Linked DNA regions of Homo sapiens: region 1 is linked to region 2. Evidence: fine-mapped expression QTL. A gene starts in region 2. The other region holds a variant in brackets. All regions are shown on one strand. Distances are from middle to middle. Region 1 overlaps EXD3 (exonuclease 3'-5' domain containing 3). Region 2 holds the start of EXD3 (exonuclease 3'-5' domain containing 3).

What was found. PIP is the estimated chance that this variant, and not a neighbour inherited with it, causes the effect.
Region 1: its variant is fine-mapped to the expression of EXD3 in whole blood (TOPMed, PIP above 0.99). The same link has a PIP of 0.9 or more in T cells and blood mononuclear cells.

The regions. Positions count from the first base shown.
Region 1 is chr9:137,383,009-137,385,905 of GRCh38, forward strand. EXD3 (exonuclease 3'-5' domain containing 3) reads right to left here. Exons shown (of 22, transcript NM_017820.5): 3 at 305-369. Among named protein-coding and RNA genes, the nearest start is that of EXD3, 39 kb to the right of the region's middle. The variant T/C (reference allele first, on the strand shown) is at 1,527.
Region 2 is chr9:137,422,085-137,424,981 of GRCh38, forward strand. It overlaps EXD3 (exonuclease 3'-5' domain containing 3), which reads right to left and starts at 1,078. Exons shown (of 22, transcript NM_017820.5): 1 at 1,030-1,078. NOXA1 (NADPH oxidase activator 1) reads left to right here and starts at 1,309. Exons shown (of 14, transcript NM_001256067.2): 1 at 1,309-1,622. The coding sequence starts at 1,446. RefSeq lists silencers at 670-809, 820-959, 980-1,539.

The DNA.
Region 1 (2,897 bases), 39 kb before region 2:
TGGCAGTGCTGGCGACAGCTGTGTCCCTGCAGGTGAGTGGCCCCTGCGCCTCCCAGAGGTGACCTCAGAGGGGCTGCTGGGGCCAGGCAGTGCCTTTACCACCCTGGGGACTTGAGGAGGACCGCCCCCTGCCCCACACAGGCCACCCTGGAGGCGGTCTGGGGCAGCAGCTGTGCAGGACCCTGTGGCCGTGGGGGGCTGTGCAGCTTCCTGACCAGGGAGGCCTCCTGTTAGGCCAGTCTCTGCCCAACAGTCAGTTCTGCTGGCTGTGACTTGGCACGTGGTGGCTGCCACGTCCACTCACCTGCTTCCGCTCCCGCGTGGACCACAGGGTCTGCAGGGCCTGCAGGAGCAGGAGGGGGTCCCGGCCTGTGGAGATAAGATAACAGCCGTGGGAGGGAGAGGCAGGTGCAGGGGCTATCGCACAGCCCGCCGGGAAGTCCCTCCCACTGACCCGCAATGCCTGGGGCTCCTCTGGACCCGGGGGGCCGGGAACCCTCCCCCACCTCTGTCTGGCACACACACAACACACCTGCCAGCTGCGGCAGCACCCACCCTGTTCCTTCCCTGTGGCCCGTGGCCGCCCATCCAGCTGAGTCCGCCCAGCAGCACTTCAACCACGCTCAGCCCTGGGAGCTGGGCCTCATCTTTCAGCTGCAGGTGCAGAGCAGCCCTCGTGGGCCTGAGCCTCTACCTGCTCCGCCTGGCGCCCTCGGCAACCTCATCAGCATCTTCTCACCCAAACCCTGCACCGCAGTCCTGGCACCACGAGGACCCCAAGCCCCTGCCCTCTTTAGGTTTCGGTCCCCGGCCCTCCCGCGCCGCCCCCTCCCTCCAGCCCCGCCTGGGAGGCCCCCGACCTCACTGCAGCAAAAGTGCCAACCAAAGACGCTGCCCCACACGGACAGGGCCACCAGAGCGAGACCCGAGGGAGGTTTCCAGACAGAACCCAGGGGCTGCGTGGCTTGGCTTGGAGGCCGGTGGTGCAGGGGAGTGGAGACCCACTCAGGCCTGGTCATGTGGTAGGGTCAGGGTCGGAGGCCAGGGAGGGGCAGGTGCCAGCAGGGACTCCACAGGGGAGGCCTGAGGACAGGAGCCTGGGTGGATTCCGCAGTGAACTCCCCCTGGACCTGGGGGGCTGTGGAAGCTGCTGGGCCCCCCTGCAGGGCAGGACGGGAACAGGGAAGGCCCCGTGTTGCTGCGAGGGAGGCTGAGGACTCACATGAGATCAGATCAGACCTCAGCAGCTGGATTCTGCCACACACGCCAGAGAAGCGTGTGTGACGGGGGTCACCCCAGAGAGCCAGGCTGACTTAACAGGAGAGTCCAAGGTTATGATTCAGCCCAGGACCGGAACGGAGGAGAGAACCACGTGGCCCTTTCGGTAGACACAGAGCAAGTGTTCTAAAATTCAGTTCAGCTCACAATTTAAGAAATAACTCACCTGGGACGGGCAGGGAGCGCCCTGAACTGGGTAAAAGCCATGGGCGAGCGTGAGACGTGGTGCTCAGGGCAGCACGTAAGGA[T/C]GCCACAGCCCGGCCTGGAGCCGTCCCAAGCAGGTGGCATCCAATGCAGAAGGAAAACAGAAACATCAGGACCGGCCGACAATGTGATTGATTACACAGAAAGCCACGAAGGATCAAAACTACGCCGTTAGAATTAACCAATGGGTTCGGCATCAATGCTCAGCACAAGCCAAAATGAGAAAATCAGCAATAAACAGAAATGGCCATTTCAAAAATCACTTACAACAGCATCAGCAATGTCAGATTCCCTGGGAGAAATGTAACAAAAGCAGCTCATGCAAAACAAAACCCAGCCGGCTGTCATCTCAGCACTTTGGGAGGCCGAGGCAGGTGGATCATTTGAGGTCAGGAGTTCGAGACCAGCCTGGCCAACGTGGTGAGACACTATCTCTACTAAAACTACAAAAGCTAGCTGGGCATGGTGGCGGGTGCCTGTAGTCCCAGCTACTCGGGAGGCTGAGGCAGGAGAACAGCATGAACCCGGGAGGCGGAGGTCGCAGTGAGCCGAGATCGGGCCACTGCACTCCAGCCTGGGCAACAGAGCGAGACTCCGTCTCAGACAAAAACCAAAAAACCATAAAACACCGTGGGGCGCCCAGGCTCCACCATGGCGTCTCTGCAGCCACCTGGGCCTGGGTGGCACAGGCCAGTGTTCCCGTCTGCGCTCAGAACCGTCCCACCATCGTGCACAGTGTGCTGCATACAGAGGCTGAGAACACTCAAATGTCCACTGTAGGAGGACGGAGCAAGTGCATCAGCCCCGGGACGATGCCCAGGTGGGGAGGACGTACCCCACCACGTGGCCATGGCAGGCAGTGTGACTGGCCCCGCATTCTGGGTGCTGCATGCTGGGCATGGCTGGCGATGGGGCCAGGGTGGGCTGGGCGGGGCGTGCTGTGGTGTGTTCACGATCATGTGCCGAGCCGCATCATGTGCTCTGCGTTCCTTCCTACACATGGGTTGCACTTCACAATAAACAAAAGAGACTTTTATTTTGTTATTTAAGTTAATATTTTATTTAGAGACGGAGTCTCACTGTCACCCAGGCTGGAGTGCAGTGCTGTGATCTCGGCTCACTGCAACCTCCACCTCTCAGGTTCGTGATTCTCGTGCCTCAGCCTCCGGAGTAGCTGGGAGTACAGGCGCTCACCGCTACGCCTGGCTAATTTTTGTATTTTTAGTAGAGACGGGTTTTCACCATGTTGGCCAGGCTGGTCTTGAACTCCTGAGCTCAATTGGTCCGTCCACCTCGGCCTCCCAAAGTGCTGGGATGACAGGCGTGAGCCACCGCGCCCAGCCCAGATTTTCTTTTAAAGCAGAGTTTCAGATGCGTGAGATGAGAAGGTTCTGCAGGTGGACGGTGGTGGCAGC
Region 2 (2,897 bases):
CCATTCCAATTCAGTTTGTGGTGTTCTTAAAAAAAAAAAAAAAAAAAAAACTCCCTGAAATGTCTCCTCCTTCCCTGCTTGGCATGGGACAGGACTATGTGGGAATGAGCCTTCCCAGCAAGAGGGGACACTCTGACCCTCAGATTTTGATAATCAATGCTTTCAAGAAGAAAGATTTTGATCAAAAGGGGGGCAAATGAGAAAGAAAAAAATCATTTATCTGAGGAATGTAAAGCCCTTTTAAACTGTGGGCCCAGAAAGCTTGATGTTAAGTGCCAGAAAGCATTTCAAATGAAACCGCAGCCCCTCACTACCCCTCGAGCCAAGTAACTATCCACTGATGACACCAAGCCGTGGTCAATCGCGAACCAATGCCATTTCTACAAGCCAGTGAGCTCCTGGGCAACGTTCGAAACCACCTGCTCTCCGATGGGCTCTGTTTTCTTTAAAAACCTGAGCCTCTGTTTTGTTCTCCGTTGCACCTGGTGACCCAGGCCGCCCTCGACCTCTGTGCCTGAATAAACCCACCGGGCACCACATTCTGACCCTTTTAATTATTTTAGGTTGACAACTAATACAGGACTCAGCGCCGGTGGACAGGAAGCCAGGGCCCCTGCAGGGAGGCGCCCGTCCCTTCTCCCGGGGAGGGCAGGGCGGGCGCGCGCGCGTCCCACCGGGAGCGCCTCCTCCTCGGCGAGGGAGCGAAGGGCCTCCGGGTCCTGTGATGTCCGTGCTCGGAAGGCGCGGAGGAGGGCAGGCCCTGCGGGACAGGGCGGCGGGGTCGCCGGGGTCGGCTCAGCTCCCCGCGGCGTCCGGCTGCTCGGCGGCCTCCGGAGCGGGGCCCTGCGGGAGAACGCACCTTCCCCGCCCCATCGGGGCCTCAGTTTCCCCACCCCGGGAGAGCCGGCGGCCCGCCCCCGGCTCACTCCCAGCTACGGCCCTCACCTCAGGACGCGCACCCGGCCCGGCCCCGCTCTGCCCCCGGCGCCCAGACCGCCCACCTGGCCCGCGCGGCCCGGGGTCGCTCACCTGCGGGGCCGGGACCGCCCCACACCGTCCACGCCCGGCGCGGAACCTTGGCCCGACCGCAGCCGCTGGCCCGGAGGGCTTTATCCGGCGCACCAAGGCCAGCGCGGGCGGGGCGAGGAAGCCGGGCGCACAAAGCTCCCGGCGGAAGTCCGGCCGGGGCGGGGGCCGAATGGGAGGTGGGCGAGGCCTGAGGGTCTGGAGTGGGCGTAGCCGTTTCTGGCGGGGGCGTGGCCTTACCGGGGAGGGGCGGGCGCCTGCCGCCAGGGGGCGCCGCGGGGCAGCGGGGTTGCACCTGGCGCTTGGCGCCCGCACCTCTGCCCGCCTCGGAGACCCCGCAGCCCCGCGCCGCCGCCTGGCCCCGGCCCCGGCCCCTCCGCGGGATCCTGGCCCCTCCTCGAGCGCCGCCACCGGCCGCCATGGCCTCTCTGGGGGACCTGGTGCGCGCCTGGCACCTGGGCGCGCAGGCTGTGGATCGTGGGGACTGGGCCCGCGCCTTGCACCTCTTCTCGGGCGTCCCGGCGCCGCCCGCCAGGCTGTGCTTCAACGCGGGCTGCGTGCACCTGCTGGCCGGGGACCCCGAGGCCGCGCTGCGGGTGAGCGGGGCGTGGGGAGGCCGGTGCGGGCGACGCCTCCGCCTCGAGCCCCTGGGGAGGGCCCAGCGCCCCTCCCCGACCGTCACGGGGTCGCCCTGCCGCCCCCGACCCAGCGAACGCCCCGGCAGGTGGGAGCCGAGCAGGGGGGCCGCACCTGAGCTAAGCGAGGCCGCGCTGGGGGGCGCGGCGGTCACCGGGAGAGGCCGGGGCCCGAGGGTGACTCACACCGGGAAGGGGGAAGCTGCTGGGCTGGGTCAGGCCCGAGGGACCGCCCTGCCCTAAGGGGAAAGCGTTGCGCCTGTGGTCATGGCCGGGAGACCGGGTCAGTCTCCTCCTCAGAGCCCTCAGCCCTCCCCCAGCCCACTCCCCGAAACAGCCAGGAGTCCAGGGTGCCAGGGTGCAGCGGCCGAGGCCCTGCACGGAGCCCGGTGCCCTTCTCGTGCCCCCTCGCGTTCCGGGGCCGCCTGTTCCTGCGCATCCCAAACGCCAGCGCTGCCCACCCCCGCTCAGTCCCAAGCACCCCGCAGAAGCAGGCAGGTGCCCACGGTTACTGAAGGCTCGGTGACAGCAGTGATTTAAAGGAGAGGGAACTGCGCGCTGTGGGAGGGTCTCCACGCCCCTGACTGGCAAAATATCCCCCTTGGAGGAGACTGGGCAAAGCGCATGAGACCCCCCTCTCTTGTGTCTTAAAGCTGCGTACAAATTTACAATCACCTCCATAATGATTTCATTTTTTTGTTTGTTTCAAAGATGGAGTCTCGTTCTGTCACCCAGGCTGAATGGAGTGCCGTGGCCCAATCTTGGCTCACTGCAACCTCTGCCTCCCGGGTTCAAGCAATTCTCCTGCCTCAGCCTCCCTAGTTGCTGGGAGTACAGGCGCCCACTACCACGCCTGGCTAATTTAGTATTTTTAGTAGAAACGGGTTTCACCATGTTGGTCAGGCTGGTCTTGAACTCCTGACCTCAGGTGATCCACCCTCCTCGGCCACCCATAGTGGTGGGATTACACATGTGAGCCACCTTGTCCGGCCCACAATGATTTCATTTTAAAATGTTATCCAAGAAAGGGAATGTAATCTTTAGACACCAGGTGGTTCAGCAACAAATCCTATGTCCGGGGCTAACCCAGTCACTTGTGCTCTTGTGCCTGGTTTCACTACAGAGAGGGGACGCAGTGAAAGTCATACGACTAACCCACAGCATATGCATGTTAGGAATATGGGAACTTAGGAAAGCAGATGGAACAGCTATGATTCATAAAGCCGATCACGTGAG